Linked DNA regions of Homo sapiens. The protein of the gene in region 2 purifies or fractionates together with the protein of the main gene of each other region. This does not show direct contact. Each region holds a gene or a part of one and is shown on either strand. Other genes may lie near its edges. The genes, in order: PTCH1 and SMO.

Region 1 (7,418 bases), on a different chromosome or scaffold from region 2:
CGCCCCCGCCGCTCTCTCCCACCACACCTCGGCCGGCGCAGCGCCCCGAGTAGATTACAGCGCGGCCTTTGTCGGGCGGGCCTGGCTCCCGGCCAGGCGCCCAAACAATAAACAATCCCCCGGGTGCGGGCAGGGGGTTTCGCCGGCCGCAGCCAGGCTCTAGGTGTGCGCTGGCGAATATCTCTATCAACCGCGAGGAGGGACCGGGCCGGGGGCGCGGGCGCCGCGGCGGGCGCTCTTACCTTCCACCCACAGCTCCTCCACGTTGGTCTCGAGGTTCGCTGCTTTTAATCCCACCGCGAAGGCCCCAAATATGAGGAGGCCCACAACCAAGAACTTGCCGCAGTTTTTTTGAATGTAACAACCCAGTTTAAATAAGAGTCTCTGAAACTTCGCTCTCAGCCACAGCGGCGCTTTCCGGCCAGTAGCCTTCCCCTGGGGACGAAGCAGAAGGGAGGAGTGAGCGCCGGGGAGTCGCGGCCCGCGCGCCCACGCCCGCTTGCGCGCACCCGCCCGGTGAGCCCCCAACAGCCGTGGGGGCGCGGGTGGCCGCGGCACACGGACTCGCCCTCGAGACTGCAGCCCCGGCGGATCTGAGCGTCATGGGGGGCTCGGTCATAAAGCCGGGCCGCAGCGTGGGAGCTGCACCTCGGGGACATCAGGGCGCCCCCACCCGCGGGATCCCTGAGCGACTTGGGGCACTGGGGCTGCAATACAGAAGAGGAAGCCGAGGTAGAGAGGAGAGAAACCACTCGACACAGACAATATTCACCCCAGAGCTGAGAAGGGAGGGGCTGCGTAATCCCAGCGATGGAGCCCAAGGTTCAGGAGCCAGCAAACCAGTCCTGCTCTGTCCATCACCCTCGGGGACGGGCGCTAGGGGCGAGCGCTCTTTGGAACAACATATTGCGGGTTCCCCCAACTGGACCCCCGCCGAGAATGGTAGTAAGTGGGGATCCACGTGGTGAGCGCGGCCGCCGGAGTTCACTCCCGACGCATTTCCATAGCGTGGGGAGAGGCTGTGTGAGCTGAATTAGGAAGTGGGGCAGCCAGCTGCAACTTACGACAATATTTGTGATCGGAAGAGGGCAGCCACATGGATCTTTCCCTCCTCTCCCTTCCTTTCTGGTTAAACGTAAAAAACAGCCGAGTGCAAAGGGAAGGGCTCAGGCCGGCGCAGGCTGCTCCCCGGCGCGGCATTTCCCCGGCGCTGGCCGCGGCCCCGGCGGGCCCCCGTCTGGGTGCTCGCCTTCCCTGGATTCCACACATTTCAGCGAGCCTCGTAAACACAATGAACCCGGCAGCTCCGCAGACTCGCACCGCGAATTTAAGGTGGCAATTTGTTTACAACTTTTCCTCCCCCGACCAGGCCCTAAGGAGAGGCGGCTCAAAACCTGGAAAACGGGGGGGATATCTTTTTCCGAGAATAATTTTTTAAGGGAGCAGAGATTTCATGCTCAACAAAACCAAAACTGGCTGCCAAAAAAGGAAACCACCTTTATTTCGGCTCCCTCCCCCCTTCCTCTCTCCGCCTCTCTCCACTCCGCCTCCCCCTCCAAGATGTTAAGAAATGTGGCAGCCGTACAGGAGTTTAGGCTGCAAATAGGGGCAGGGGCGCAGGAGGAAGAAGTTCAGGGCAGGGGGCACGGGGCAGGACAGTGCCGCGGCCGCCCTTGAGGTGGTCCGCCGTGGACGGCTTTCCAGTGCTCCGGAAAAGGCACACCAGGGAGGGCGTGTGTATACACACACACACACGCACACACACACACCTCCACCCCCTGCGGACCTCAGACAGCCCTTTCCTCCCAGGACCAGAGGGAGGGTTTGAATTTTTCAATCCCCATTTGTCTGCTGCTTTTCCTGGAGAGGTGTGAGTGAGTGTGTGTGTGTGTGTGAGAGAGAGAGGAAGAGAGTGTGTGTGTTTGTGTGTGGCGGGGGCGATCCCAAAGAGTTAGAGGAGGGAAGAGAAAGTGGGAGGAGAGAGTCTGAAATGCACCTTGGAAATCTGCTCCAGAGCGAAGGCGGCGTCGCAGTAGCTGGGCCGGTGCAGATAGTCCCGGTCCGGCGCGGCAGCACGGCGCAGCCCCCCCGTCCGTCTGCGCCTCCCGCCTCCAGCCGGCCGTCCCGGGGCACCGATACAGCCGCTGCCGCCGCCGCCGCGGTCCTGGGGCTCGGCGGCGTTACCAGCCGAGGCCATGTTGCCGCCGCCGCCGCCGCCGCCGCGGGGACGGAGGCTTCCCGGGCGGCCCGGCGCGCTGCTGCCGCTGCTGCGGGCTCCTGGCGCGCCTGGGCGCTCGGCTTGCGAGGACGCTGCTGGCCGCAGGCTGCTCGGGCTCGGGCTCCGGTTGACAGACCAGCCGCTGCTGCTGCTCACACGGCGGGCGCTGCTGCCGCTGCGGCCGCGGCCGCTGCCGGGGAGTCAGACCCTGCGCCTTCCATTGCCACATTGCGCGGGGGTCCCGAGGTCTCTGCGGCCGCCGCTGCCCACATCCAGTTCGCGGAAGAGCGAGAGCCGGCGCGCCGAGCGAGCCTGTCCTTCGGGCGCTTCCGCGGCACTCCTTGCGGTCCCCAACTCCCCCTACCCGCCCCCCGCCCCGCGCCGCGACCCCTTCACTGCAGAAAGAGCCAGCGAATCCCCGCTGCTCCCGCCGGCCGCGCTGGCTCTCTCGGCGCCTCCCGGGTCGCCCGAGCGGCCGCGGAGGGCAAGCGCAGAGCCGCCGCCGCCGCGGGGTCCGAGGGTGCCCGGCGGGTCTCAGCGCTGCCGGGCCCGGGCAGCCGCAGCTGCCGCTGCTCCCGCGGTGGCTGCTGCTGGCGGTGGCGGCTCCAGGAGCTGCTGCTCGGGCTGCTCGGGCTCTGGCTGCTGGGTTCGCGGTGGCTGCTCGGTCCCGGACTCTGCTTTCTTGTGCTCCTCGGCAACCCGCTGGACCATTCTGTCCCCGTGCAGCGCGCCTCTCTCGCTCCCGGGACCTGGGGACTCCGCTCTGTGTGTGTGCAGCGGGCAGCGGCCGCAGCAGCTCCTTGATTCAATAGATGAGATGGAAGAAGAAAAAAAAGAACTCTCTCCATTTGGAGAAAGAAGAGGAGGAGGGGAGGGGAGGGGGTGGAGGGGGAGAGAGCGAGCGAAAGAGAAAAAGGCTGGAGCTCCCGCCCCCGGGGCTGTCAGATGGCTTGGGTTTCTGCGACGCGATTGGCTCGCGGAGGGCAGAAATTACTCAGCAAACATGACTATTATTAGCTGCTTAGCAACAGCTCACCAAAGTAGAGAGACCACCCAGGTAGGCAACCCAGTGTGTGCATCCTCGGCTTCGGGGCAGCCTCTGAGAGCGCCAACCTTCTCGCATGCAATACTTCCATTAAGGAATGCTCCCCCTCCTTTCTCTCTTATTCCTTTTCTTTTCAACAGTGTCTTCTTTTTGTGGGATGCCTTTGCGCGCACACACGCGCGCGCACGCACACACACGAACATTTGCCTCGCGGTAGACACGGGGGGAAATGTAATATTTTTTTAAGCGCTTAAACAATTTCTGAAATTCCTCAAAGAAAAGCCTTTCAGAGGCACCTTGGCCTCAAGCTGCAGCAAATACTGGGAGGTCCGGCTCGCATTCCCAGGCCTGCACCAATAATGACAGCGTGCTGGATAGTGCGCCAGTGTGTGCCAGATTTTTTTTTCCTCTTCTCTTTTCTTTTATAACTAAAGGGAAGACTTAGGCTCTTGCAGGGAACAACGCCTCGCATTAAGATAAACAGAATGGAAAGTTAAAGAGGAAAGCAAGGACGTTGGGAAAAGCCATCTTTCTTAAAATCCGTCTGCCCCCCAGCCGCTTTCTCCCCCCAACTTAAAAAAAAAAAAAACACAGTCTTGGTTTGAAGGAGTCAGTGTTCTATAAACGTGGAATCCAGACACCGAAGCAGTCTTGTAGAGGCAGAGGCGTTTTTATTTGAATCTCGAATGTGACATAAGTAAAAGAGAAACAACAGAATCTTTTTTTACAACTTAGAGAAACGGAATTGTTTCCTTGAGAGAGTAAAGTTTTCCTGATTATTTTGGGTTCATTTGTACACCCCTTTTTATTAACCAGATGTTTATATAGTCAGTATTTTTTTTTACAAAACTCGGTATGCATGTTATATTTAATAATAGTATGACGTAGGAGATTATAAATGCCCCGATGCTGGATTCATTGAAAACAAACTGTGCGCGGATCGCGAGGATTCGTCCCGACACCGCGTCCAGTGTCACCAAGGCATCCCGGGGATTCGCTTCCCGCGGAGGGGGAAAACACGCGACCCTTTGAGGTGGATTCTGGAGCCAGACACGTCTACACAACTAGGCTTTTTATTTAAAAAAATTTTTGTTTTCGGAAAGTGGAATGTGTTTTTCTTACGTTTCCAAGTTATTACGTTCCTCCCTGCGGTAGGAACCCGACCCGCAAACCCTTGATTTGCTTCACTTTATTTTTTTTTTTAAACGGGGTTGAACTGCAGAGGGACTGGCAGTAGCGAGAAGTCTAGTGAAGTCGTGAAATGGGGCGGTGTGGCTTTAAGATGCGCACGGTGTATGTTCATTGAAAAAAAAAGAAGAAAGAAAGGAAAGGAAAGAAAGAAACCCAGATGGAGGGAAAGGGGGAGGAGCAGGGAGAAGGCGGAGCTCCGGTGGCCACGTGACCCCGCGCCAGGAGGCCCGGTGCGCGCGCGCGCCCGGCTCCCGGACTCCCCGCGCCCGCGCGGCCGGGGCAGAGTAGGTAGGGAGGCGGATGCGCCGGGCCGGCTCCGGGCCTCCAGCGCGGTCTCCCGAGAGCCCAGGCGAGGCGCGCGCCCAGCCGGCGCGGACGGACGTGCCGGACGCGCCGTAGTACATTCCTGAAGGCGGACCGGCCCCCTTACGCTGCCCAATGCCCGCGCCGCCTCCCCGCGACCGGCCAATGGTCGCGCTCACGAGTCCCTGCCCATTCAGCGGCCCCGCGCTGGCTGCCCGGGCGCGCTGGGGGCTGCGGCGGGGCGCGCCGGCCACCGGGGCGGTCCACGCGGCTCCCGCAGGGGGCCCGTCCGCCGGCTCTCCCCGCCCCCTTCCTTCCTCCCCGGCGGTTTCCCCTCCCCGCTTCCTTCCTTCGGCCTGCGCCTTCTCCTTCCTCCCTCGCCCCGCTCCCTCCCTCAATCTCCCCTCCCCCACCAGCCTGGCCACCTTCCCTCCAGCCTCTCCTCCTCCCCGGCTTCAGGGGGAGGCCCTTCCCCCGACCCCCTAACCCGCAAACCGTATGCGGTGCCGGGGTCAGGGCGGGATGTCCCGAGGAAGAGAGGGAGACGGGGTGGAGGTGTTTGGGGGCGTTCGCGGGATCCGGAGGGGGACCTGAGCACCGGGCCAGCGCGGAAATTCAAAACTCAGACCGCTTAAGGAGCACGTGATTTTGTGAGTGCCTCAGGGAAGGGCTGCGGAAACTCGGAAAGCAGGCGGGCAGCATGCGAGGAAAATGACACTGAGTTGATAAAGAGCTCAGACGGCTCCACACATTGCCAGTTTCATCTTTGAGTACGATCCTGATGTTTATTAGGTTTGATAAATAGCACAAAACAGGAAAAGAGGTTTACTATTCTAGCTTTTCTTACTGAATGGTTATGCCGACACTTCAAGTCGAACCATTGTGTGTTTGCTTCTGGAAATTGCTTTTTAAAAACTGGGGGAGGGGGGTAGTACCCCTAGTTTTGCATGTTAGCCTTTTTATATTTCAAGCTTGCTGGAGGGCAAGGAACCATATAGCCAAAGACACGTTGCTATGTTTGTCTTTTCAAACTTCTCCACCACGTTTTGGCCCAAAACTATTAGTGTTTCGTCTCAATCTTTTACTAGAGGGATTTCAGTATAGCTTGTTTGGAAGAAGGAATTCTGGAAGGAAATGGTAAGCTGTGTGCCCGTAATGGATCCGCCTCACTCTCCGCACGCGGCTGCATGTCCTCTGGTTCCGGCGGCTGCCACATGCACGTCATTTCAGTGGCAAAGCCTCTTCCACTCAGGCCCATATCCCTTAGTTTGACTTAATTCCTAAACGTTTTGAACATTGATCCCCGGAGCTTTCAGTGCCCTGAGCCCCCTCGCCCGCTGTTTGATGGGTTAACTTTTCAGCATCTCAGACAATGGTCCCGGCCTGTAAATTCTACCCGTGGGTTCCAGGACGCACTCCGGAGCCTCGGCTCTAACGAGCGCTATCTTAATCTCCCCACCCCCCACCCGCCGCTTCCCCTGTGGTCTGCTTTTTTCATACTTAGAGATGAATTACTTTGAGGATCTAATTGGCCTTGTTTCTGTAACGTTTTAAGAAAGGGAAGAGGAGCCAGTGTAAAAGCCTGCTCGACTTGGGTGGTCAGGGCTGAGGCTGCCCCCAATTTGCCTCATTGCTGATGCATGCGAGTGCGACATTCCCAGCGATAATGTTGTTCCTAATCAATCTGCCCTTATTTACATTTGTAAGCATTGTCGGCTTTAATATGCATGCCCTGTGCAGGGGACTGCTGTGCCACACCGGGTTTGTTAACTTCAACTAACCACAAGGATTCCACAGATCTGAGATGCAGACTGGGGCAGCCAGACCTGCTAAGGTGTCCTCCGGGAAGACAGTCCCTTTAAATGGCCCTTCTGCCTCTGGCACCCCTTGTGACAGTTACCAAATAAAAATAAGTGAGAACTTGGGGCCTTATCAGCCAGCAGGAGTTGCCAGCCTTTATGAAGCAACAGCTGAGTGTTCCATTTCCCCTTTCCAAGTAAAGTTCATCTCAATGCATAAATTGTCATTTTGGTCTCCCAGTCATGATCCAAGACTTCTCATTGGAGTGTGTAGTTTTCAAAGCAGATGCCTTAAGCTCTCCGGATTCCCTCACATCTCCTCCCTTCTCTGTTCCAATACTACAAATATCCATGGCCACACCACACACATTTCAAAAATGACATCAGATTATCCAAATGATGACAATGAAATAAAACATCTGCCCTTTGTGTTGGGATGTTCCAATGGTAAGCAATTGTGGAAGCCAGACTTGGTGGAGTTATGAAAAACCACAGTGAGATTTAACTTTTCACTGGTTTCTCAGATCAAACCAAATGAGTCTTTAAAATCCAATGTAATTTGGCAAGTTTTGCAGAGTATAAATGAATAAAGGGGTTAATGTATTCCAGTAATTTGACCCTGGGGCCATTTATAATTTTGTCTACTGAGTTTAATACTCTTCCAGAAATACAAGGAATTGCAAACATGATTTTAAGTCCTACAGTATTTTTGTTGAGAGGGTCGGATGGAGAGAGGAATTGGGGATTTGATGCAATATTCTTTTACTGCATGGGGAGCCCAGGATACAGGATGTGAGTGATGGTCAAGGCAGGGCTTCAGCAGTTCCAAGCAGGTACCTTGAATATGAGTTGAGTCGACTCA
Region 2 (7,263 bases):
GGGGTGAGGCCTCCCCATGGAGATGTTAGGCTCTTTCCCACAGTCCTGCTGCTTTGAGCCAGACATCCAGAACTCTCTTCGGAGGGCAGTCAGCCCACAGGTTCTCTGGAAGACGGGATCCTAGGGAAGCATGCTCGGTGAGGAAGAAGAGCCTTGAAGGTATTGGTTCCTCTCTTTCCTGTCCCAGGTCCTGCTCTGCAGGCTCAGAAGTCCGAGTCTGCATCCATGAGTTCTGTGTCCATCAGGTTGGTGCGGGAGTGAATAGGCCCCAGGCCCTGTCGGCGGCCATGAGCCCATGCCACGGGGGCCGGTGCACTGGGCAGAAATGGATCCTGAGGGGGACTGGGCTCTGGGCAGAATGGGTTGGAGACCAGGGTCCACGCTCCCTGTCGGCAAGAGTCCCCAGCTCCCCAGGCACCTGCAGCCACCAGGCATTTCTGCCGGGGCAGCTGAGGCAGTCGAGGAATGGTACTGGGGGCAGGGGCAGGGGGGTGAAGCTCAGGGGGCGGCGCCAGCGGGCACACCTCCTTCTTCCTCTTCCTCCTCTTCTTCTTCCGGCCCAGGCGCTTCTGCAGCTCTGGGGAGATCTCTGCCTCAACCAGCCACAGGTTGGCTTGTTCCTCTGGGGGCACTGACAGGAGGAGAGACAACACGAGCCTGGGGCCCTGGCTCTGTCCATGCCACCCCCGCTCCCCTGGGAGCACTTAACCTGTTAGTTCTGGGGCCCAGGTCTCTAGACTCTTAGAGCCTCAGCCCCACTCTTCAGATCCTCTGGGGCCTTTCCTTCCTCTTCCTCCTCCTCCGACAGCCCCTGTACTCCAGTCCCAGAAGCCCCCAGCCTCTGTGCTCCCCCCACCTTCCTCCAGAAGCTTGAACTCTCATACCTGGAGTTGCCACAGGGGTGACAGAAATATCCTGGGGCAGTATGGCTCCTCTCCGAGCCACCATCTTGGTGACATGCTGGGCCCAGGCAGAGGAGACATCAGCTGAGGGCTCATTGAGGTCAAAGGCCAAGCCCGCTGTGGGAATGGAAGGAAGGAAAGGAGAAGGAATAGTGACTTCCCGGTCCCTGGCAGTGCCTCCCATAGTCAGTGCCATTCATCTTCCCACAGCCAGTCCCTCCTGCTCACCAGAGAAAGCTCACCCTGTAACCACGGTGATCTCTACCCCTTCAGAATCTGAAGAGAAGGGCCTCACGTCCCCAAAGGGCCTAACTGGAGGCCAGAAATCCAGTTCTTGGAACCCTGACTTACTCTTGCCCAGGGAGAGCAACTGGAGAATTTATGAGAAGGGAGAGGGAGGGGAGTCTTCTTGGAACCCAAGCACCGGCAAGCAGACCCAGGGGCAGAAACAGAGAGGGGAGAGCCCCCCAGAGGGTAGGAGGGGCCGGGGGAAGAATGGGTGTGTGAGCGATGGAGGGAGCGCCTTGCTCCTCACAGTCGGTCTTCCAAATAATCTGTGTGCCCCCAGCAGGCTGGGAGAGACTAGCACATGGGCAGCGCGGGGCCAGGCGGCTCCGGTAGAGGAGGGGTGAGGCTCACCCACGGGCCCGTCGTGGGACACAGTGTGCATGCTGAAGGACAGCTCCTGGCCTGGGTTCTGCAGGAGCTCGTGCCGCTTAGAGAAGGCCTTGGCAATCATCTTGCTCTTCTTGATCCGCTTTGGCTCATCGTCACTCTGCCCAGTCAACCTGAGAGCAGAAGGGATAGGGAAGGAGCGTGAAGAAGCTGCCACTTCCCATCAAATCTTGGGAAGGGCCAGCGATGCCATTCTTTCCAGAGAAGGAGGCTCCCAAGGGCCTCAAGTCCTTCAAGGACTCAGGAGTAGAGGCCTTCTCTGCAAAGAAGTGGGGCCAGAATGCAGAGCTCCTGTGTGCCCAGCCCTCCAATCACTCCGCTCTTAAAAGGTGATGGCAGCTGGCTCTGCCCTTGGCCCAGGCCCAGGCCCAGGCATCAGGCCACCCAAGGACAGAAGGTGCCACCAGGGGGCAGCGGTGAACCACTGACCAAGGCTGTGCTAGAGGCAGGACCCGACAAAACCTAAAGATGGGGTCCCAAGGCTGAGGGTGAGGCGGGCAGGGCAGGAGGGGCTGGCTGCCATGCCCACCTGCACCAGGTACGCCTCCAGATGAGCAGCGTGGCCTTGGTCCAGACCCAGGTGCTCATGGCGATGCCAGTTCCAAACATGGCAAACAGGTTGATCTTCTCCACCAGAAGGCTCGGGCGATTCTTGATCTCACAGTCAGGGATGGGCTGCTTGGTGGGCAGCCCGATGGTCACATTGGCCTGACATCTACAGTGAGGGAACGTAGACAGGTGAGGCTTTCCTTTCTTTTCCTCTCTCTTTTTTTGAGATAGGATCTTGCTCTGTCACCCAGGCTAGAGTGCGGTGGCGTGATCACAACCCACTGCAGCTTCCAACTCCTGGGCTCAGGCAATCTCCTGCTTCAGCCTCCCAAGTAGCTGGGACTACAGGTGGGGTTTTCTGAGTCTACTGGGTAGACTCAGACAATCAATCCAAAAACTTTAGAAAGGGCTAAGCTCCACAGCACTGATCTCAACCCTGGGTGCTCATTAGAATCAACTGGGGAGCTTTTAATAGCTACTGATGCCTGGGACCCACCCTAGACAATTAAATTGAATCTCTGGGGCAGAGACTCAGGCATCACTGTGGTTTAAAGCATCCCAGACTGGAAGCCGGAACCTTTACGGAAGAGCCTGAAGCAGTCAGGGCTTGGACTAGCATCCATTTTAGCGACTGTCCTTGTAACAGTGGGTACTGCGCTTCTCTCAGCAGTAGCAATGTCTTACTCTCTCCAATCCATCCTCATTATGACACAAAAAAGCACAGGCAAAAACTAGCCAACATTAGCAGGTCATTAACCTATCACAGAGAGGTAACTAGTCCTGTGCCAGGATCTAAAGCAGGCTCTGCAGGAGAGCACACAGAATTAGAGGGCAACTTAGTGTCAGTCAGAGAAGACGAAGCTGAACTGGCTGCTTAACAGTCACACATGCACCAGCTGGGCAACCAAGGGGGTGGAGAGGGAAGGGCAGAGGTGAGAAGGGATGCGAAGGTTGTTTGCCACGTTTGAGAAACTACGGAGACTGATGCCTTATGCACCCAGACACCATCCATTGAATCTGCTGTCTGCAGCAGGGACCTGGCAAATCCCTGCTGCCCGGTGGGTGGAGGTGGGTGTCTTTATGGCCTTGGCTCCAGCTCCCAGCACTGCCGCCTCCATGCCCCTCACTCACAGCACATAGTCCCGGAAGCTGCGCTCCCACTCAGCCTGGTTGAAGAAGTCGTAGAAGTGGCAGCTGAAGGTAATGAGCACAAAGCCAAAGGCCAGGAAGCCAAAAATGCCTGTGGAGGACAGGGGCAGGACAGGACGTTACCAAGCCCAGTCCCGCAGCAGCAGTGGGGAGGAGAGAGTCTGCCCCACTGGGCCTCAAAGTTCACCCAGCTGGGGCTGGGGTGAACTCATGCTGGGCTCAGTCCAAGAACTGCTTTCTCTAAAATAAAATAAGAAGGGCACTTGAAGCAACTGTGGGAGGGACCACGTGGGACGTAGTGGGCAGGAGGAACCAGTCCCGGCATGAACTTGACTGAATTCTTCCCCCCGAGTAGACCCCCTTCTTTTGAGCTGCCACTACCACTACCACCTACACACACCCCTTGTCCTTGTCCCTATGGCTAACTTGTCCCACTGACTTACTGCATCCTGCCGGTCGCATAGCCCCAGGAGGGTGCAGTGTTGGGCTGGCCAGGACCTCAGACCGAAGTCCCCCGGGGCCACTCACCCAGGCGCAGCATGGTCTCGTTGATCTTGCTGGCAGCCTTCTCACTCAGCAGCCCGGGGTGGTTGCTCTTGATGGAGAACAGAGTCATGACTCCTGAACAGAAGGGGGACCTCAGACATTAGCAGGGGTGAGGCTGCCCTGCTGGGAAGGATGGGTGAGTGGGAGGAGGGTCCTAAGGCTCTGGAGTCCCAAGTCTGATTACCCCTGTGCTAAATGAAAACCTGGGGAGCTAGAGACACTGGAGAAATGGTGAGAAGACCAGGGCAGAGCCTAGACAGACACTTGAGAAGAGGGAGCCTCGGTCGTGGCCCAGCTGCCCCTGAAGAAGGGGGCAGATCAAAGCTGTTCTGATGGGAAAGACATAAAACAGACTCAAGAACAGCGCTATCCATATAATTTTTTTTTTGAGATGGAACCCTGTCGCCCAGGCTGGAGTGCAATGGCGTGATCTCGGCTCATTGTAAACTCCGCCTCCCAGGTTCAAGCAATTCTCCTGCCTCAGCCTCCCAAGCAGCTGGGATCACAGGCACCTACCATCACGCCGGCTAATTTTTGTATTTTTGTAAAGATGGGGTTTCACCATGTTGGCCAGGATGGTCTTGAACTCCTGAACTCAGGTGATCTGCCCACCTCGGCCTCCCAAAGTGCTGGGATTACAGGTGTGAGCCACCATGCCGGCCTTCCCATAGAAATATGTGAGCCACATACATATGGCAAATTTCTAGTGGCCACTTAAAAAAAGTTAAAAGAAACAAGCAAAACTAATATCAATATATTTTACAAACCTAATATATTCAAAATAAAATCATTTCAACATGTAATCCATGTAACAAATTATTAATGAGATATTTTACATTTTTTTCCCACTAAGTTTTTTTTTTAATACAGTGTGTATTTCACATTTTACAACACATCTCAATTTGGACTTGTTTCTTTTTGTTGTTGTCTTGTTTTCTTTGGAGACAGGGTCTCACTCTGTCACTCAGGCTGGAGTGCAGTGGCAAGATCATGGCTCACTGCAGCCTCAACCTCCTGGGCTCAAGCAAGCCTCCCACCTCAGCCTCTCACATAGCTAGGACCACAGGCATGTGCCACCCTGCCCAGGCAACTTTTGTATTTTTTGTAGAGATGGGGTTTCACTATGTTGTTCAGGCTGGTCTCGAACTCTGAGCTCAAGTGATCCGTCCGTCTCAGCCTCCCAAAGTACTGGGATTACAGGAGTGAGCCGCCGCACCCAGGCTGGACTAGTTCAACACATGTGGCTAGTGATTACCATACTAGGACAGCATGATAACGAAGCACAAATCAGAGGGCCAGACACTATGCCAAAAAGAGGGGAAAGAGGTGACTGAACAGAAGGCTGGCAGTTCAGGGTGAGGAAACTGAGGTTTACAAAGAAAACCCAACAACAATGAGCTAAATAGATGCTGAGGCTTACTATGGGATGGCAGCATGAGACAGGAAAGTTAGGGACCACTAATTCCACGCATGCTGTGAGAGCTGTGTGTGCCGGGGACAGAAAGAAGATGAAAACCAAGCTCCAGAAGATTGACAGTACATATCGAATTAATGTGCACACAGATAACCAAACGACCTAGGTTGGTCCAAGTGGGCAGAGTAGGTTACTCAGGGTGTTCATCACACAAGTGCACCGGCCAGGAGCTGACTGGGGCTGGATCCTGACCCAACTCCACCTAACAAGCTGTGAGGCTGGGCACTGTGGCTCATGCCTGTAATCTCCGCACTTTGGGAGGCTGAGGTGGTGGATCACTTTAGGTCAGGAGTTCAAGACCAGCCTGGCTAACATGGTGAAACCCCGTCTCTACTAAAAATACAAAAATTAGCCAGACGTGGTGGTGCATGCCTGTAATTTTAGCTATGGGGGAGGGTGAGGCAGGAGAATCACTTGAACCCAGGAGGCGAAGGTTGCAGTGAGCCAAGATTGTGCCACTGCACTCCAGCCTGGGCAACAGAGCTAGACTCTGTCTCAAAAACAAAAACAAACAAAAAAAACAAGCTGTGAGCCCTGGGCCAAGGCCCTGGAGAGAGGGATGGATTTTTCTGGCCAGTACAAAGGTGCTGTCCCGCAGCAAGTGCTCACGGTGTTTCGTCTGCCTAGAGGGTCACCTTCTACTGTGTGAAGGCCCTATAGGAGCTAGCTGGGGTTTCAGCATGGGGGCAGCCGTGCTGGCAGCTCCCAGTACTGGCAGCAAGTGCCCAGTATATTTTGTTGCCCAACTGGTCCTGGCCTGGTCTTCACTCACCTCGGATGAGGAAGTAGCCTCCCACGATGAGCACCAGGCCGATTGGGGCCAGCACGAAGCCCGCACGGTATCGGTAGTTCTTGTAGCCCACAAAACAAATCCCACTCACAGAGTCCCCATCCACCTGCAGCAGGAAGGGGTGGGACAGAAGGTGGGTTACTGGCCCCCTCCCTCAAACTCACCCCATCCAGGTCTCCCGTTCCTACCAGTCACTATACCTGCGCCACAGCAAGGATTGCCACAGTGAGGACAAAGGGGAGTGACCAGGTGAGCAGGTGGAAGTAGGAGGTCTTGCCCGAGAGAGGCTGGTAGGTGGTGCCCAGGGCTTTGAAGGAAGTGTGCCAGGCATAGGTGAGGACCACAAACCAAACCACACCAGCCATCAGGGCGTAGTACACGATGACAAAGATGATGACGCAGGACAGAGTCTCATTGGAGCTGTGCAGAGAGGTGAGGTGTCACTTGAGGCGGTCACTCTGTACTCCCTCTACCTGGTCTCCCCACCCTGTGCCCAGACCCTCAGCTGCTGAGGTCTGGAGGTTCCCAGAAGTCAGGGCTTGGAGACAGGACCCAGGTCAGATCTGAGGAGGCTCTAGGAGCCGCCCCTTTGAGCAGATACAAACCATGAAGGTCCTGATTCTGAAACTAAGATCCTAACACTGGAGATCTTGCATGCAGTATGCAGTAGGGCAGAGCCAGATCCTGCCCTGGATCTCGGTTTTACACGCACCTGCTCCCTTTGGGGTAAACGCACACTTCAGCCTTCCTCCCTGTACCTTCACCTCTGGGTCCCCAAGACACCTACGTGGGCTCCCCAAGCCTCATGGTGCCATCTGCACGGCAGACGATCTCTCGGCGGGCACCATCCATGAACTGGGCCAGCCAGCCAATGCTGCCCACAAAGAAGCACGCATTGACGTAGAAGAGAATAACAGCAGGGTAGCGATTCGAGTTCCGCCAGTCAGCCACGAATGTGGCCTAGAAGAGAGAAGTGGGCCATTCTGTGAGGTTAGGGTTATTCTGCTGACACAGACACCCTTAACTGAGCCCCAGACCCTTCTGATCATGACCCTTCCCTGGGGACCCCCACCAAGACCTCTTTGCCCCCCTTCCCTCTGGCTCTCTTCCCACGTTCCAGGCTGAGGGCCCCCCGGGCCTGCCCTCCCGCGGCTGACCAGGGTGAAGAGCGTGCAGAG

Evidence for each region.
Region 1: the proteins of SMO (region 2) and PTCH1 purify together in Homo sapiens (affinity purification with western blotting; 2 studies listed by BioGRID and IntAct, with this or other methods). This does not show direct contact.

Annotation. Positions count from the first base shown.
Region 1 is NC_000009.12:95,506,165-95,513,582, forward strand, and holds the start of PTCH1 (protein patched homolog 1), read right to left. Parts: upstream 3,103-7,418; 5' UTR 2,198-3,102; coding exon 1,997-2,197; intron 1,877-1,996; exon of another isoform or gene 1,770-1,876; intron 1,264-1,769; exon of another isoform or gene 1,065-1,263; intron 1,036-1,064; exon of another isoform or gene 773-1,035; intron 436-772; coding exon 243-435; intron 1-242.
Region 2 is NC_000007.14:129,205,392-129,212,654, reverse strand, and holds part of SMO (protein smoothened precursor), read right to left. Parts: coding exon 7,243-7,263; intron 7,046-7,242; coding exon 6,873-7,045; intron 6,506-6,872; coding exon 6,286-6,505; intron 6,192-6,285; coding exon 6,068-6,191; intron 3,897-6,067; coding exon 3,804-3,896; intron 3,367-3,803; coding exon 3,258-3,366; intron 2,293-3,257; coding exon 2,107-2,292; intron 1,691-2,106; coding exon 1,542-1,690; intron 1,020-1,541; coding exon 885-1,019; intron 632-884; coding exon 204-631; 3' UTR 1-203. UniProt on the Homo sapiens protein: G protein-coupled receptor which associates with the patched protein (PTCH) to transduce hedgehog protein signaling. Binding of sonic hedgehog (SHH) to its receptor patched prevents inhibition of smoothened (SMO) by patched.